Linked DNA regions of Homo sapiens. The protein of the gene in region 1 interacts with the protein of each later gene in a pairwise test. Each region holds a gene or a part of one and is shown in the gene's direction. Other genes may lie near its edges.

Region 1 (7,977 bases):
TTTCCTCTTAACATCTACAATACTTAAGTTCTTGTTAGAATTTAATTATGCATATTTTGAATTTTACAACATTTATTGGCTACCTTTATTACAGAAGTAATATATTTATATTACAGAAAATTTTTTTAAAAAGCAAAAGTAAAACCACTTATAGGCTCTTTATTTCAAGAGAACCACTTGAACACTGTGCATATAGCCTTCCAGATTTTTCCTATGCATGCACTGGCAATTTTTTTTCACAAATAGGATCCTATTGTAAATAGTTATACAAATTATTGTTAAACTATACTAACAAAATATTAATATATCAATATACATAAATTTTCATCACTAATTTTTTTCATTATTATTATTATTTTTGGTAGAGATGGGGTTTCACTATGTTGTCCAGGCTGGTCTCAAACTCCTGAGCTCAAGAAATTTGCCTGCTTCAGCCTCTCAAAGTGCTGGGATTATAGGCATGAGCCACCGTGCCCAGCCACCAATATTATTTTTGATGGATCCATGATATTCATATTTTATATATGAACCACCATTTATTTAGCCAATCATTTCCTGTAAGGCATTTGGATTTTTCCATTTTCTTTTTGCTATCATACAAAAAAGATCTGTACATTCTTAATTTTTTCATTAGTATAAATTATAACACATACAATTTCTATATAATTTTAAATATTAATATATAAAAGTAATAAAATCAAATACAAAATTACATTTTTCAATTGTTTCATGTATATTAGTTTTGACTCCTTATGTAGATTTAAGTTCCTTAAGGATACAGTCCAATGTTTCTTAATTTTTCACCTCAACATGTAACAGATGCTCAGTAGTGTATGTTGAAAAATTAGTTTATTTCATATACCATATTTTACTAGTTTATTTCATATAAGCTTTTAGATAATAGTGGCATCAATTCTTTACTATAGAAGAAGATCACTATAGATAGTAATATAAGAACATCACTTTCTTTTAGGGACTATTTCCAAAGTCCTTCTTAGGAACTGAGGCAATCTTTGAGGAGATGAAGATGGGACAGATAAGAGATATACAGTTTGAAGGAAAAAGGCTGCCAGCCAAATTTAACAATAGCTAGAAGCAAAATTTTTGCTTTTCTGGTTTGGATTGCCCTGATCATTTTTCAAAACTTGTGTGAGATTTTGTACAATGAGAAATCTCTTCTTGGCAGTGGTGTGTCCAGAAAGCCCCCAGGAGTGGGCCCCCAAGGTCCTCTGTGCCGTCCAGCAATTCTGCCACATCCCTGGCACTGGTTCACATCTTTTCTCTATCCCCTAAATCTATCCTTCCCTCCTCCACTATCAGTGAACGGTCTATCTTCTTACTCCACTAAGAAAACAGAATTCCTCAGACAACGGCTTCCCATACTTCCTACCATGATATTCCAGCCTCCCTGCACTTCCCCACCTGTGCTGCCCTTCCTTCTGTTGGTTGGGATGAACTGGCCCCTTTCTCTCTCAAGGAAGCTTCTCAGCTTCCTTGTGGGGATCTTTTTTTCTTCATCTTGCTGACCTCTAAATGTCGGAGTGCCCCAGGTCTTAAACCTTAGACTTCTTCTCTTTGCTCCTCTTCTCCACCCATGTTTCCAGTTGCTGTGTTGATGACACACAGATTTCTATCTCTAGTCTGGACTTCTCCCCTAAATTCTAGATTCCCATGTCTGATTACCTGCTCACCTTTTCCACTTAGATGTCTGATAGACATCTGAAATGTACTATATCCAAAACCAAATGTTTCAGCATTTCCCCCATACCTGCTCCGCCTGGATAAATGAACTCTCCATTAATAAGCTGTTCAGTCCAAAATTCAGAATTTCCTTTGACTCTTCTCTCATATCCTACAATGGAATCATCAACAAATCTTGTCCGGTTTATGCTGAAAATATATCTGGATTCCATTTATGGCTGTCATTCTAGCATTCTATTAATAGTTTAAATCACCATCACCTCTCTAATGACTTATCTCAATAGCCTCCTACTTGGTCTCTCTGCTTCCATTCCTGTACTTCCCGTGACCCAGCAGAGTGATCCTTTAGGAGTTGAGGCCAGGACATGTTCCTTGTCTGCAGAAACCCCTACAGCATCCCACTCCATTCACTTTTGTCAGATTTCATTGGATGTTAAATTTGCCCTGCCATGCCTTATTCAAGGTACCACATTTGAAATTCTGTCTACTGTTCTGCCTAAGAAAAAATACAATATTTTCTCAACATCATCAAATCCTGTACAGGGTGCTGGAGAGCAAGAAAATCAAAGGCTCAAGAACTGCCCATGTCTTTAGTCCGTCTTCCTTTCCTCATCTGTTTCCTGTATATTTTAATTTTTCCTGTTTTATTTTCTACAATCAAGAAGATTTCTATTATAGAAATAAAGTTTATTTGTTTCAATGCCATGATACAGATTTATTGTCCCTGGAAATATCATGCTTAGAAATGAATCACAGACAAAGCCCATGCTCTGGATCAACACACATGTGTAATTATGTAGGAAAAAAATGTATATCAGGAAAGGTTGAATGCTCCAGGCATGAGAAATAAATTGACCTCCACTCAACTTACTGCCATGATTATACAGAGGGAAGGACCTGGATCTGTTTCACATCATAAACGCCTAAATTGCCAGAGCAGCACAAGCCCAGGAGTGGCCATGCAAACTCATGATGGAGGTGCTAAGGCTGTCCACAGCCCAACCTCTGCAGCAGTACTGTTAAATGAGTGTCTAGTACTTGACTTACCATTTTAATTTCACATAATTCTGAATGTATTTTTCGGCTTGAATTCAAATAACCCACTTCTAACTACCGAAAATAAAGTAGAAAAATGAACTCACTACCAGACTTCAAAGCTTATCCAAAGCAAAGATTTCGTCTTACAGCCAGAGGTGCATGATTGCAGAGCTGGATGTAACCTGAGAGGCTAACTACTCCTAATTCAGCCTCCTTGAATGACTGGATGATGCAACCTATCACAGGTGTTTTAGGTTTTTTCATCTCTATTTAATGTCCCACCTCATGCTTGAAAATCTCAAAGTGAAAAAGCTCCAGTCTGAGTCTTTGGGCAAGCAGACTAACTGAAATGACCTGTTAGCCTTTGTTGTATCCATCTGACAAGATCAGCTTGTAGAATCCAGAATGGAGGTGGGAGATCAGCTGGCAGCCTCATTTCCCTCCTCAACCACCCCTACGCTGATGTGCCCAACTCCACTCACAGCTGGGCAGCCACCGCTTGCTTGAAAATAAATGAATCTACACCACTCTCATACGGATGCTCTCAAGCATCCCTTGTTGTGAGAAAAACATTTATTGCTGCTACTAAAATGCGTAAAGTTATCTCACAAACACATACTTACAAGAATGAGGAATGAGAAACAGAACCATCCATAAAACTATAAGAAACGGCCTGGCCAGGGCAGACCAGGAATTAGTACTCTGTCCTTGCCAGGGGTCAGGCAGGGACCTCAGAAGCAGGGTGTTTTGTCCTAGGGGGCACCAGACCAGAGGTCAGGAGACTGAGGGCTACTCCTAGCTCTAGGACTTTTCCTTATCTGAAGGCCGGGTCGGTTAGCAGAGAAAATCTCACAGTCCCGTGCCAGACCTCCACGCAGGGACTCTGCAGTGCTGTTAGAAAAATTAGCTCAGCACCTTCAGCTTGCTTTCAGCCATCACTTAGCTTTCCACACAGACATTCCAAATGGGGCCTTTCAAAACTCTGCCCTCAAATGAAGGTAGTTCAGAGCAACACTTTAGATGATATCACAAGACTCCCAGGACGCTTCACTGCTTCCTCAGCATACGCCAGTGCCCGTTTTACAGGGGGGATTTATGATCCTTCTCTCAGTAGAGCGAGCCAAACTTTTATAATATTCATTAAAAATCAGCACCACGTGTAATAATATGGAATACTGCCTGTACACAAGAGGGCCAAGTTATAGGTGTTTAGGGAAACGTGGCAGAATTTTCTGGCCTTGGCAAGAGGTAAAGTTGCAGGCACCAGCACAACACTAACACAACCTTATTTTATTGCAAATGTACATTCAGCCTAAATCCTAATTACCTTCTGTAAAATCCTAACCACCACCAAGCTTTCTTCTGACAGGGCACTCACACGACGGCCTTTAAGGGCAGCAACAACATCCTAAGAGCCGCAGAAAGGAAAGGCAGGGGAGAGTGGCTGGAAGGCAGTAGGAGCTGGGGCTGAAGCCCGGGAGGTTGGCTTTTAATGTCCTCCTGAAATTGACCACTCTCTTTCCAAAAACACTGGCTTGGGGGCTTAAAGGTTCGCTCAGTAGGGCAGGCGGAGGGCCTCCTGAAAAGGATTGAGAAGTCAACATTCAAAAGGCTGCTTTTACTCGCCCGGTCCCCACCCAAAAGGGAGTCCGGTCAGCTTTGTGGGGGCCAGTGGAGCATCTTTTCTTGCCCTTCCGGGAAAACGCTAGCTAACCCTGGGATCCCCGGTCCCGACGTCTGCTCTCCTTCCCCAGGTGCAGCACCTAGGGCTCTGGCCCCCTCCCCACGTGCCACACCAGCCCTCACCACTACTCTCACCCTGCTATGCCCCCAACCCTCGTCTTTCGTGGCCGGGAAGGCCAGGCCGAGCGGGGCGGTCAGCCGGGCCGGGAGGAGGGGGCTCTCCGGGCCGCGCGGCCGCACAAAGCGGGGAGATCTGCTGCTGCGGCGGCATGAGGCGCGCCCCCTCCCGCGAGCCAGCGGAGCGCGCGCGCCCGCCCCCGTCCCCCGCCCCCCGCCCCAGCCCCCGGAGCGCCATTCGCGGAGCGGCTTACGCTAGTCGCCGGGCGTACCGCGCCCCAGCGGCCGGGGAGGTGCGCTGCCCGGCTCCCGTAAAGTTATTGTGAATGGGGAGCGGGTGACGTCAGCGCCGAATGTCAACAATGTAGCGATTGAGAGTGTGGGCGTTCCGGGGAGAGCGCAAGCCGCGCGGCGCGGAGCAAACAGCGCCGAGCCGCCGCCGCCTCAGCAGCAGCAGCAGCAGCAGCAGCGGCAGCAGCGGCCGTGCACGCCCGGGCTGCGGTCGCACAGCGCTAACGTGAGCGGCCGCCGCCCTCGCCACCCCGCCTGCCCACTCCCGCCGCCGCCCCGCTCTCGCTTTCCCCCCGGCCTCCCCTCGCCCCTTCCCCTCCCCCTTCCCGGCGCACTCGGGGGGCTGGGAACGAGCTGCCATGTGATGCGCGTCCCCTCCGCGAGCTTTCGGTGACCCACGAACTGCCCACCTCGCCGGCTGCCGGGAGGGGGCTGCGAGCCGGGAAGACGCGGGGAAGAGGAGGCGGAAAAGGACGCAAAGTTCTCCGGCGAGGTGAGTCCCGGGCCCCGGGCCCCGGGCCCCGCCGCTGGGCGGGGTGGCGGGGCAAGTTTGCGGGGGGAGCGGGCGCGCGGGGCGGGCGGGGAGGCGTGGGGAAACGGCGCGGGAAGGGAGCCCCGGCCGCCGGGCGCGCAGCCGCCCTCCCCGCGCCCTGCCCGCTTTTATGGCATTTTCTAGGAACGGGAAGGGGGTGGGAGCCGAGCCGGCGGCCGCGCCGCGCCGAATGTGTGCTCTCCCTCCCGGCTGTTTACGGCGGCCGAGGCGCATTGTATTTTGCTGGCGTCGAAGGGTGTTTTGGAACAGCAGAGGGAGGAGGAGCAGAGAGTAATAAGTCAGGCATGGGGAGGGCGGGCTGCAGGAGGCGCGCGTCCGCGCGAGCCGCAGCAGCTGTCAGACCCGCGGCCCTGCCCCCGGCCCGGCGAGGCCCGGGTGTCCCGGCCCCCAGCCTGCGATCCCAGCTCCAGGCCGGGCGGCCTCCTCCTTAACCCTCGGCGTGCGCATCCCGGGCTGCTCCGCGAGGACCTTGGCCGCGGCGCCTTTGCGCTCAGCTGTCAGCCGCCGCCGGGTGGCCCGGACCACCGCGACCGGCGGGGAATCAAAGCCCAAGTTTAGGGTCGCAGGAAGAGGCGAGCTGGGGGCCTCGCGGCGCAGACCTGGATCGAATCTCTCCTAGCGAAAGATCGGGTTGTCGGAAAGCGTCCCGCGTAGCTAAGACCTAAGGGCGCCAGGCTTCTGAGAGGGAAACCTTGCACCTCCTCTCCCACAGATCCTCCATGAAGTCAAGGTGCAACACACACACACACACACACACACACACACCCTACACTCCAGTCTCCAAGCCCCAGAAGCTTCACCCAGGAGACTGGTTTATGAAGGGGACACTGCCCTCCCCGTCCCCGCGTCGAGGCGCTCCGTGGCCCCGCTGTGCTTCGCTCACCCGGCGGGTGTTCGGGAGCCCGGCGCCGCTGGAGACGGCGGCGGGCGGCGCTCACGGGCTACCCTAGGTGCCCACGAGGGGAGAGACTGGAGCGAGCATCTCGGCGACCTCGGTCTGGCCAAGCATTTGCAGGAACTCGGACCGTGAGGGGAAGCGTGCAGGGCCGGGAGTGAGTGTGTGAAGGGGTGGCACACTCCTGGCTTCTGGGGTCGCGGGCGCATGGGGCATCCCCAGCACTCTCCCGCGCGTAGGCGAGTTTGGTAACTTGAGGGAAGTTCCGGCGCGGCCGCTGCCGGGGTGGTTTGTCTGTGGCCCGATGAGGCGCGCCTCGCAGCCTGCTCTCCCGGTCACCGCCGTCGCCGTGACCTGTGGCCTCCAGGAAACGAGAGGGACCGGGGCGCCCCACCCGCGAGACGGACCCGCAGTCTCCCGGCGGGCCCGCGGGCGGCGAGACGCGGCGTTCCTGGTTTTCACCTTCGCTGTCTAGTGCTGCAGTCTCTCACTCTCTGTAAATTTCATCTGTTGAGTGTATTTAACTAAAAAGGGTAATTACTTTAGATAAAAATCCTTTCCTGCCTAGTGGGAACCTTGGCGGAGATGATGCCTAATGAGATATTTTGCTTTTGTCTGTTTAGAGTAAAATTAGAGATGTTAACGCTGATAACGGTTTTCTCAGATCATTAAAATGTAACATGTAGGAAAGGCACGTCTTGCTGCAAAGGCTCGGGCTGACATGAAAGAAGCTGAGCGTGAAAGGCTGCCCCTCCTTTGGCGGAGAGGGCTATTTTGGTAAGGCAGCGGGCGTCTTGCTTAAAATGTGAGATCGCCCCACCCTGGTTCTCGGGCACCTCCCGAGTAAACGGCGTTTTTCATTCTTGCAGGTAATAATAAACGTGAGTCAAAATGACATCTTGTTAGAATTAGTCTTTAGTCTGTAAGAGAGATTGCCAAATTACAGTGTTGCGTTCAAACTGCTCCACTGAAAGGTCTGTCAGCATTTCCATTATAAATTCAGTTTTTCTGGAGTTTATAATTTCACCACAAAACTTTGAGTGGCTGAAATGTTTTCCCTTCTAGTATTCTGGTTTTTGAAAGAAATTTATTGATTGCCCATTTCCAACGTTTTTTTTACTCTCGAAACCTGAATATCATTGAAATAGAGCGAAGTCCCAGAAATGGAACACACAACCATGGAATAAAGTATTTTTGTTAGAACATAACTTTATTGGTGCAGAGCCGTATTTTCGTTTTGCATTGCAGGAGGCTTCAGGTTTGCCATTTGGTAATCATGAATGTGTTGAGTAAATTCTTCTGCTGTCTGTCTATTCTGCAGGTGGACTGAAATGTCAGTTGGTAGTGTGTTTGCCAGGATTACATGGAGACACACACTTCTCAGTTAAGTGTGTGTCTGAACTCATAGCTAAATTGTGAACACTCCTGTTAGTTACTTTTTTGGTTCTTTGTATGTTGCATGTCAGGATCTGCTATGAAGAAGAAGGGGTGAGGTGAAAGAGAGGGAGGGGATCAGGATTCACTTTCTGTATTACCAGTGCCTGGGAGAAAGCCATTTATTATTTTCCTATTGAATTATGCCCTTTGACTTAGTATCTTCAGGCAATTCTTTTCCAGTAGCTCACCTCTGGCTGCTGTGTAAGGGGCTTAATTATTTGCAAACTGCCTTGAAATCCCTGGATGAAAGGCACTGAATAAG
Region 2 (6,997 bases), on another chromosome or scaffold:
AGGGCTCCTGTGGGCCTTCTGACCTCCAGCTCAGGTCTTCCCCATCCTTTATCTGGAAGAATCCAGTGGCTGGAGCCTCGGGACCTTGCCTCTGAGCTGGCTTGGCTGTGGGGAGGGGTCTCTGGCCTCCCCTCCCTGCTCTGTGCTTGCAGCCTCACCTCCTGGTCCCAGGCTGGGTGAGGTGGAGTCTTGAGCCTGGTGAGGATGTGTGCATCCGCCTGGCCACACTTCAGCTCCCCTGATGAGAGTAAGAAGCCCCCCAGCCCATAATTTCCTGAAGTGATCCTAGCTCCTCTGGAGGAGTCTCCCATCTGTCTGCATCAAACCTGGAAAGTGGGGGATGGAGCATGAGGCGGGGGTCCATGCCCAAGGGTCTGGTGGGAGCTGGGCTGAGCTGGGAATCCCAGAAACATCCTTAGCAAGAAAGTGAGAGCAGAGTGCTGGAGGGACCCCGAGTGGGGAAGAGTTGGTTGTTAAGTCCGGCCACCCCAGCACTTTTGTTTTTGCTCCCTGGCCCTGTGGGCACTCACCCGGGGCAGGGACCAGAGAGCAGGCTGCAGCTCGGAGGGGCTGACTCCGCCAGCCTTCACGTTGGGCAGGCCCGGGGTGGCTCACTGTGGGAGCCCTTGTGAAATACCCTGGATGGGGTGGGGCAGGGGCTGCTTCCTGCAACCCAAAGCCACAGGATGGTTACTCCATCAGTGGAGGAGGCCGACTGGGAGGTCTAGAGGGGCCTCGGGCCAGGCTCCTCCCAGCTGATGGCCTGCCACCTGGAAGGTGGGGGAACTCCCTGGTCAGTCCTGCCAACAGACCAGAGCTAGATGGACGGCCCACCCCCAGCTTTTCAAAGTTAGGAGGCTGGGAGACTCGGGGTTCCCTGTAGCCTCCTCTCTGGCCAGGTCCCCCGTGGGGCCCCTGTGCACCCAGGGAGCAGGGGGCTTTGTCCGAGGCCGGCTCAGGGGAGGTGGCTGTAGAAGGTAGGACCCTGGAAGATGCACACACAGGGTCACTGGCTGGCCCTCACCTGCTATTGGCCAGGCTGGGGGCTGCGGCTCTCGTGGGGCGCTGTTGGCTGGCGGGCCAGGGAGTGCGGGCGCGGCGGGGAGGCAGAGGCAATGTGCTGAGTCAGCGTGACTCGCCAGGAACAGCCGCGCTCTGGGCAGTGCCGGGGTTATTTTTAAAGCTCCCGGCTTCCTTCTAGGCCTGCCTCTCCCGCGTCTTATTCCTTCTAATCTCTCCCCTGCCCCTTGTCTTGCGCCTGCCTTCCTAACAGCCTTCAGTTCCCCTTCTCCCGTCAGACCTTCCTGACCTCCCACCTGGTTCTCTAGGGGCAGGGTGGACAGGAAGCAGCTCAGCCCAGCCTGGGAGAGGCCAAGGGCTGCCTCCTATCAGGTATTGGGGGCTGGGCACCTGGACAGCAGGCTGGGGCGGGCTGTGCGGCAAGGGCTCTTGTGAACTGGGCCGGGGGCGGGGGGGGGGGGGTGCGGCGAGGGTGGTCTCCAGGGTACTGACCTGCTCCGTGTCTTGCAGAGAGCGCCTGCTCGCTGTGCCCCCGGGTTATGACGACCCCCAATAAAGGAAACAAGGCCTTGAAGGTGAGTGGGCAGGGACAGGAGCCTGTGGGCTGGGGTCGGGGGGCACAGTGGGCGTGCCCGCTTGGCCTGTGACCACCTGCACTGTGCCCCAGGTGAAGCGGGAGCCGGGTGAGAATGGCACCAGCCTGACGGATGAGGAGCTGGTGACCATGTCGGTGCGGGAGCTGAACCAGCACCTGCGGGGCCTGTCCAAGGAGGAGATCGTCCAGCTGAAGCAGCGCCGGCGCACGCTCAAGAACCGCGGCTACGCTGCCAGCTGCCGCGTGAAGCGGGTGACGCAGAAGGAGGAGCTGGAGAAGCAGAAGGCGGAGCTGCAGCAGGAGGTGGAGAAGCTGGCCTCAGAGAACGCCAGCATGAAGCTGGAGCTCGACGCGCTGCGCTCCAAGTACGAGGCGCTGCAGACCTTCGCCCGGACGGTGGCCCGCAGCCCCGTGGCGCCAGCCCGGGGCCCCCTTGCCGCCGGCCTGGGGCCCCTCGTCCCAGGCAAGGTGGCCGCCACCAGCGTCATCACAATAGTAAAGTCCAAGACGGATGCCCGATCGTAGGGACGCGCGTCTGCCCAGGCGGGTCTTTGCGGGGCCACTAGGCACATGGCGAATTTGGCTGCCCTGTCCCTCTGTTTCCTTCTCTTCTCTTTCCTCCCTCTCTTCCCCACCCTTCTCTCTTCCCTGCAAAGCACAACCTGTACCCCAGGGGCGCCGGGCTGAGCCCCTTTGATCTCGTCATTGTCGTCGTGTGTTTTGTATGTTGGGATTGGTCAGTTCGGCGGTGACGTGGGGTCGCCCCAACCCCTTTTGTACCAGGGCCATGCAGGCTTGGAGTCCAGAGTTGGTGCTGTGGGAACGGACTAGAGAGAGTTGCGGGAGAGAGAAGGAGCAGGCACGCTGGGCCTCGCGTGTCCCCGAGCAGTGAGGGTCCCAGTGTTCCCTCCACTCCCGAGTGGCCACAGGCTCGCGGGCTGGGAAGGATTCACTCTCTTTAGCCCCAGGGGAGCAGCTCAGCTTAGCCCAGCATGAAGAGATGGGCTCTGCTCTGAGAGTAGGGCGGGCTTGAAGGCCCTGATGGGTGGACCACCAGCCTGGGCGCAGTGGTGCTGGGGGCGTGCAGCTGGGCCCAGGGGCTGTGCACTCAGGCCTGACCCGTTGCACTGAACAAGACCAAATCTCTGGTTGTGCGCTTAACGTGAGGGTGGGTCCAGTGTGCCCTGCGATGGGTCCCGTGTCACTGTTTACATGACCTATTTGTGTGGTTATATAGCCCTTTATTTAAAAGAGAGAAGTTCCTTTTACAAAGTTATTAAATTAATTATATGTTTAAAAGTTAAAGAAAAAAGAGCTGCAGAGTATTTATAAAACTGTCTTTTAGAAAAAAAACAAGCAAGAAGACCATTTGACCATATGAATGGAAAAGGGAAGAAAGTATAATAGAAACTTTGCTAGTTAAAAAAAAAAGAAAAAAAAAGAAAAAAAATCCCTTTCTTGTAAACTTACGGACACCTCTTTGTGGCTGTTGGAGTTTAGTTTTTATATACACAGAGTTATCAGACATTATTTATAAAACTTAGTTTAAAAAAAAGACAAAAAAAAAAAAGCCAAGCCGTGAGCCGACCAGAAGGCCGTCCTCTTTGATATCTTTTGCAATTGTACCGAAAGTGACTTACTCCTCTGCCCTTCCTGCTTCCGTCTCTTGCCGGTGCCGTGGTGTCGTCCGTGCCTGGTGAGGTTTTGTGCAGCGGTAAAGTGCTGGTGCTTCTGGTGACCTTTGACCTGTGGGTGTCACTTCTTGTGTCTGTTTTCCCGTGTTCGTTTTTTGGGTTTAGTTGTGCTTTTGCTTCTGCTGGCTTGCTGGACCTGGGCTGGGGTGCCAAGTGGCGCCTGCTGCGTCAGAGCTCAAGGAATCTGTGCCCACCACCAGCTCCTGGTCCGTAGGAGGTGAGACATGGGGTTCTGTCATGCCCCCCTCCACTGAGCCTTGGCTACATCTGTGTCTAGGGCTTGGGCTGATCTAGTGGCGGGGTAGGTGAAACTGGGGTCCCTTGGGGCGCCCCACGCTGCTTCCACACCCACCACCTCTGGCCTTGGGTGGTGGCATTACAGGGATGAGGGAGTCACTGTGGGTGGCCACAGGGCTATGGCCAAGCGTTCCCTGGCCGTCTTCCTCTGGCCTCAGCTTTGTTCCTATAGGCTGCCCGCGCCGTGGGCTGCAGGTCTCGCCGCCCGCTTGATCCCTGAGGTGTTTCCATGCTGCGGGTGGTGCTTCCAGGCAGAGTGGGTGGGGGCCCACCGGGCACCGCCCTTTCTTCCTTGTCCCTGCCTCACTCTGAGAGCCTTGGGGGTCTCCACCAGTGCAGACAAGGGCTACAGTCTCCAGGGCCGGGTCTTGTCCCTCTTCTCCGCTGGTCCACGCTGGCAGCTCTTGGCTTCGGGCCTGCCTTCTGCCTCCCTTTGGGATCTGTGTCTTCCAGGGATCAGCTGCTTGGCTTCTGCTGGAGGTGCCTCCCTGTGGGGGCGCAGCCTGCCTCCTGCTCTCAGTTCCTCGCCAGAGGCTGCTGCCCTTCCTGGCTGGGCTCAGGAGGCTCCTTGTAGGCATATGATGGGGAGGGGGTGCCCCTACCCACCTCCAAGAGGCTACAGCCCTGTGTCTGGCCATGTGAGCCCTGGCCTTTCACCGGGTTGCTGGTTTCTTTTCTGTGGGGCCCAGACTTCTGTAAAGCACACAGATGTGGGTAAGATGAAAAACTGTGGCCCAACAGGGCTTAACCCTATGGATGGTGGGATTTTTATCCAATAGTTTGGCCTGGTGTGCCCACAGGATGGGAACAGGGAGGCACCATCAACACTTGTCATGTTAATGAGCTTTTCTTTGCTCGAGGTGTTCAGAGACAAGTCCTGTGTCTACCTGCGTCAGCCTGAAAATGGAAATATTGGCTGTTGACTCTTGTCATTTAGTGACTTCATCCCCCTCCCCTCAGTCTGATCTTGTCTAAGTAGAATCCAGGCGTTAGTTGGAATCATATCATAAGTATCCATGAAGAAAACGTCATGATCTGCCTCGGAGTGGGGAGAAACAGGCCCTCCTTGTCCTTGTGCAGCCCCCACTTTTGTCCTGGCTGTGGGTGGCCATCCATTTTGAGCACCTCTGCCAGGCTGCAGACCTGGAGGCGAAGGGAGTGTGGAAGAGGAGGGTGTAAGGGTCGACGCGTGCTGAATGGGAGGTGCAGGTCCTCGGTGCGTTGGCAGAAGAGGCTTCTGGAGTTTCGAGGCCATACCTCCTTTCAAGAGCTTTGGATTTGGGGCGACTTCCCTGGGTCTAGGGGAGTGTTCCTGTCCCCTGTCAGGTCAGCCCTGCGGAGCCACTCCACCCCTCTTCCCCTTCCCCTGGATTTCCTGACATAGATGGTGTGTTCATGTGCAGGTGTGAGTGTGCTGTCCTTCTGATCTCTGTTGATCCCGCTTTCCTACTGAGAGGGTGGTGGAGAGGGTGGTGGTCTCTTCTCACCTCAGTTTTTCTGACACAGCGAATCGAGGGCTTTGGCCAAGGCCAGGTCTCTCAAACTTGTCCGCCAAGTAAACCATGATATATGTCTTCCCTTCCACCTTAACTTTGCCCCAACTCCTCTTTTATCCTAACATGGACGCTCAGATTTCAGAGGAATACCCAGCAGGGACAGGTCAGCTCTCACCAGGAGAGTGAGGCCCCTGGCTGCTGCTCGGGGTGGCACTGGTGTTGCTGGCTCAGCTCTTGGTGCATGTTTCAGATATGTGTGTACACTTCTGACTGGTGATCAGGGCCCGGCCCACGGCCCTGAGCGGCTGCAGCCTGCTTTGGGACGATGGTCAGGTCCCATGTTGTCCCTGCTGCCTCCCTCTGGAGTGGCCACTTGGCCAAAGCGCCCATCCACATCTGGAAAGTCGGAGCCGCAGCCTGCTGCACCGTTTCCGCTCTGGGATCTTGTGAGTTACTTTTTTAGGCTGTGGTTTGGTGAAAGGAACCAACACATTAACGATTTTTCCCCCAGAAGCCACTGAATAATTCTTTTTGGTGTATTTTTGCCTTCCTGTTGGCTGTCTGGCCTTGGAGCAGGTCGGGAGAGTAGAGTACATAATCAGTGCCACACAGAGGCAGGGCGTGTCTGAGAGACTAATGCCTGTCCTGCCTCTGGCCTGTGTCCTGGGTGTGTACCATACCTGCTGGGCCAGTCCCACACATTTCCACCCTGCCCCTGGAGCAGCAGCTTTGATACCATGGGTGTCCCTTGAGTCTGAGCTAGAGTGTGTCCCCGATAAACTGTGAGACCTCCCTGTTCTTGGTGACCCCAGTTGGGCTTTGGCCCCTCCAGCAACCTTGTGTCCCAGCCCTGCCCTTCTTCCCACCCCCTCAATCTGCTAGTCCCTGAAGCCTTTAACCAAACGGGAGTGGGCACAGAAAGCCTTCTCCTGGCAACAGGACAAGGGCTGCCCGCGTGTCCAGCCCTGTTGCTCTCCTGGCGCTGAGAGGTGGGTCCAAGCAGAGTTGATCAGTCCCTGCCTGCCCTGCCTAGGTCTAGCCAGGGGAGGTTGTGTGTGTGGGAGAAGACCCCGGGATCTGCTGGGGTGGGATGGAGGTTATTAAAGATCTAAGTGAGGAGGGGCTGGGGTTTGGATGCGGGGTGAGGCCCGAGCGCTCACACTTCGTGTAGGGCGGGCAGGGGCCTGACCTCTTGCAGGGCAGTGGCCTTGGTGCCCTACCCCTGCCCTGCGCAGTATTTATTGCTAAATTATTGTCCAGGAGGGGCAGCACTGGGCCTGGCCCCCCGGGTATTTATTGCTGTACATAGTGTATGTTTGTGATATATAAGGTTTTCTTTATTTTGTATATGATCAATAAACCTTTTAAAGAGACTGGCAGGTGCTTCTTTGGGGCGACGCGGCGGGCGGAGCCGGAAGGGGTGGGTGGGGGCGGGGCCCATCTTGCGCATGCGCCCTGAGCGCGGCCTGCCGTGTGAGGCGGAAGCGGAAGAGCAGGTCTCCAGGGGAGCGATGGCAGCCGGGGGTCTGAGCCGCTCCGAGCGCAAAGCGGCGGAGCGGGTCCGGAGGTTGCGGGAGGAGCAGCAGAGGGAGCGCCTCCGCCAGGTACGCCGCCGCCGCTCCCCGGCCCGGCCATGCCCGGCCCGCGCCGCCGCTCACCGTCCGCCTGCCCGCAGGTGTCGCGCATCCTGAGGAAGGCGGCGGCGGAGCGCAGCGCCGAGGAGGGCCGGCTGCTGGCCGAGAGCGCGGACCTGGTAACGGAGCTGCAGGGCCGGAGCCGGCGGCGCGAGGGCCTGAAGCGGCGGCAGGAGGAGGCGAGTTCCGCGTGCGGCGCGCGGGCGCCCCCGGTTTCGGGAGCAGCTGGGGCGACGGGCGGTCCCGGGTGGGGCGGCCCGG
Region 3 (3,527 bases), on another chromosome or scaffold:
CACCACCATGCTTGGCTAAATTTTTTTATTTTTGTATTTTTTTTATTTTTAGTAGAGACAGGGTTTTGCCATGTTGGCCAGGCTGGTCTTGAACCCTGACCTCAGGTGATCCACCCCCACTGGCCTCCCAAAGTGCTAGTGGCAGGTGTGAGCCACCACACACGGCCAGAATAGACTTTAAAGCAAGAAAGCAAAAGAAAAAATGTATTAGATCCCCGAGAAGTTTCCACACAACTCCAAGAATTATTATTAGAGTTCCCACTCTCTGAGGAATTTTCAAGAGAAATTAGTTAGAATTCAACAAGAAATAAATTACTTTAAAATATTTCCAAATATGAGAGGTTTTTTTTGTTTTTGTTTTTGTTTTTGTTTTTGTTTTTGTTTTGAGAAAGGGTCTCTGTTGCCCAGGCTGGAGTGCAGTCAGTGGCACGATGTCAGCTCACTGCAACCTTGGCCTCCTAGGCTGAAATAGTCCTCCCATCTCAGTCTCACAAGTAGCTGGGATTACAGGTGAGCACCACCAAGCTCAGCTATTTTTTTTTTTTTTTTGTATTTTTAGTAGAGATGGAGTTTTGCCATGTTGCCCAGGCTGGTCTTGCACTTGGGCTCAAGTGATCCACCTGCCTCAGCCTCCACAGTGCTGGAATTACAGGTGTGAGTCACCATGCCCAGCCAATATGAGAGATTTTAAAGCACATTTTTCAATCACCATGTGTCAAAGAAGAAAATATAATGGAAGTTAGAAAATATTAGAGAATGGCCAGGTGCAGTGGCTCATGTCTATAATCCCAGCACTTTAGGAGGCTGAAGCAGGTGAATCACTTGAGCTCAGGAGTTCGAGACCAGCCTGGCCAACATGGCGAAAATCCATCTCTACTAAAAATACAAAAATTAACCAGGTGTAGTGGCACACGCCTGTAAATCCCAGCTACTCAGGAGGCTGAGGCCCAAGAATGGCTTGAACCCTGGAGGCAGAGGTTGCAGTGAGCTGAGATTGTGCCACTGCACTCCAGCCTGGGCAACGAAACGAGAGTCTGTCTCCAAATAAATAATTAGAGAATATTTTTCAATCTGGATGCAGGTGACATGGGTGTGCTCTCGAGAATCCATCAAGCATTGATGATTTGCACACTCTTTTGTGTATATGTTACACTTCAGCAAAAACATTCACAAAGGGGAAAAAGGCAAAAGATACTTAAAGCAGCCAGAGGTAAAGACACATCACCTTCAGACATGACAACCAGACAGACAGACAGCTGGCTTTTCAAAGGAACCCAGAAAACAGTTGGGTGACATTTTCAACATGCTAAAAGAAAACCACTAACCCAAATCAGAGACCCAGCAAAAGTATTTCAAGAATGAGGTTACAGTAAAAACATTTTGCAGACAAATAACGAAAGAGTTTGCCAGCAGCAGGCTAACACTAAAGAAAATTGTAAACAGTGTACTCACATCAGGCACAAGGAAAGTGATCTCAGACGGAAGGGCATGATGCAAGAAGAAATAAAAGCAAAGAAGTAGAAAATACATGAGAAAATCTAGACAAAGATTGCATAAACAGTTTCTGGAGTTTTTTTAAGTGATAGAATTATACAACAGGAAAAAAAGTCTGCAGGGAGTAAACTGAGTTAAAATGTTCCAAGTTAATGACTGTCTGGGAGGAGAATAAATAACATGGATACACTTTGGGAGGCCGAGGCGGGCGGATCACGAGGTCAGGAGATCGAGACCATCCTGGCTAACACGGTGAAACCCCGTCTCTACTAAAAATACAAAAAATTAGCCGGGCGCGGTGGCGGGCGCCTGTAGTCCCAGCTACTCCGGAGGCTGAGGCAGGAGAATGGCGTGAACCCGGGAAGCGGAGCTTGCAGTGAGCCGAGATTGCGCCACTGCAGTCCGCAGTCCGGCCTGGGCGACAGAGCGAGACTCCGTCTCAAAATAAATAAATAAATAAATAAATAACATGGATAAAATTTGTTGTTTGTTGTTGTTGTTGTTGTTGTTGTTGTTGTTGAGACGGAGTTTCGCTCTTGTTGCCCAGGCTGGAGTGCAATGGCGCGGTCTTTGCTCACTGCAACCTCTGCATCCCGGGTTCAAGCTATTCTCCTGCCTCAGCCTCCTGAGTAGCTGGGATTACACGATGCGCCACCAGGCCTGCCTAACTTTGTATTTTTGGTAGAGGCGGGGTTTCTCCATGTTGGTCAGGCTGGTCTCAAACTCCCGACCTCAGGTGATCCGCCCGCCTCGGCCTCCCAAAGTGCTGGGATTACAGGCATGAGCCACTGCGCCCAGCCAAATCTGCATTTTGATAAGTATGCATTTTACTATCTAAGGGAGCTAAAACATTTTTATTATTTTAGCACTGTAACTTTGCTTTTCTTCTTTGTTTTGTTTTTTTGAGACAGAGTCTCACTCTGTCGCCCAGGCTGGAGTGCAGTGGCGTGATCTCAGCTCACTGCAACCTCCACCTCCTGGGTTCAAGCAATTCTCCTGCCTCAGCCTCCTGAGTAGCCAGGATTACAGGTGCACGCCACCACACCCAGCTAATTTATGTAATTTTATAGAGTTGTGGTTTCACCATATTGGCCAAGCTGGTCTAGAACTCCTGGCCTCAAGTGATCCACCTGCCTCGGCCTCCCAAAGTGCGGGGAGACCAGAATTCCACCCAGAATGACCTCTCTGTTCCTAGGAGTGTGACAGCATTTGGGGGGGAAAATAGCGTAGAGTTGGAATTTTTAAAATTCAGTTTGACAAAATGACTTTTAGCTGGAGCATTAAGTCCCTTTACATTTAATGTAATAACTGATATTACATTTAAGTATAAATTTAAATCTACCGTCTTACTTTGTTTTCTATTTTTGTCCTTTCTATGTTCTCTTTTATGTCCTCTCTGGATTTATTACAGATTGTTTGTGGCTTTTAAAAAAAGTCATTGCTTGAATGATGAGAGCTTATATTTAAAAAGGCAGGGGGCTAAAATAAATAAATAATTTAAAAAATAAAAATAAAGTCATTGTTTTCCTTTGAATGTTTGAGAGTTACAATTCTAGGCTGGGCGAGGTGGCTCAAGCCTGTAATCCCAGCGCTTTGGGAGGCCAGCCCAGGTGGATCACCTGAAGTCAGCATCGTGAAACCCCATCTCTACTAAAAATACAAAAATTAGCCGGGCACAGCGGCATGTGCCTGTAATCCCAGCTACTCGGGAGGCTGAGGCAGGAGAATCACTCGAACCTGGGAGGCGGAGGTTTCAGTGAACCAAGATCTCACCATTTCACTCTAGCCTGGGCAACAAGAGCAAAACTCCATCTCAAAAAGAAAGAAATATATATGAGTAGATATTAAATGTGTACACATATATACATATATAAAGGCTAAAATAATGATCTAAGCCTCCATCTCAAGAAGTTAGAAAAAGAACAACAAAATAAATGTAAGAGCACAGAAAGAAGGAAATAATAGGGAGTAGATACAAAGAAAATGGAAAAGAAACACTCAATAAAGAAAATCAACAAAGTGAGTTTATTTAA

Evidence for each region. Proteins that work in one complex are often made in the same cells at the same time.
Region 2: the proteins of BACH2 (region 1) and MAFG interact in binary tests that used the Homo sapiens proteins (3 or more experiments, as listed by UniProt).
Region 3: the proteins of BACH2 (region 1) and AP1M1 interact in binary tests that used the Homo sapiens proteins (3 or more experiments, as listed by UniProt).

Annotation. Positions count from the first base shown.
Region 1 is NC_000006.12:90,293,826-90,301,802, reverse strand, and holds the start of BACH2 (transcription regulator protein BACH2), read left to right. Parts: upstream 1-4,959; 5' UTR 4,960-5,323; intron 5,324-6,596; exon of another isoform or gene 6,597-7,977. UniProt on the Homo sapiens protein: Transcriptional regulator that acts as a repressor or activator. Binds to Maf recognition elements (MARE). Plays an important role in coordinating transcription activation and repression by MAFK.
Region 2 is NC_000017.11:81,917,748-81,924,744, reverse strand, and holds the end of MAFG (transcription factor MafG), read left to right. Parts: exon of another isoform or gene 1-977; intron 978-1,278; exon of another isoform or gene 1,279-1,392; intron 1,393-1,512; exon of another isoform or gene 1,513-1,530; 5' UTR 1,531-1,559; coding exon 1,560-1,595; exon of another isoform or gene 1,596-1,687; coding exon 1,688-2,140; 3' UTR 2,141-6,475; downstream 6,476-6,997. Other genes in the region: SIRT7 (NAD-dependent protein deacetylase sirtuin-7), read left to right, coding at 6,614-6,706, 6,778-6,915. UniProt on the Homo sapiens protein: Since they lack a putative transactivation domain, the small Mafs behave as transcriptional repressors when they dimerize among themselves.
Region 3 is NC_000019.10:16,242,902-16,246,428, forward strand, and holds the end of AP1M1 (AP-1 complex subunit mu-1), read left to right. Parts: 3' UTR 1-3,005; downstream 3,006-3,527. UniProt on the Homo sapiens protein: Subunit of clathrin-associated adaptor protein complex 1 that plays a role in protein sorting in the trans-Golgi network (TGN) and endosomes.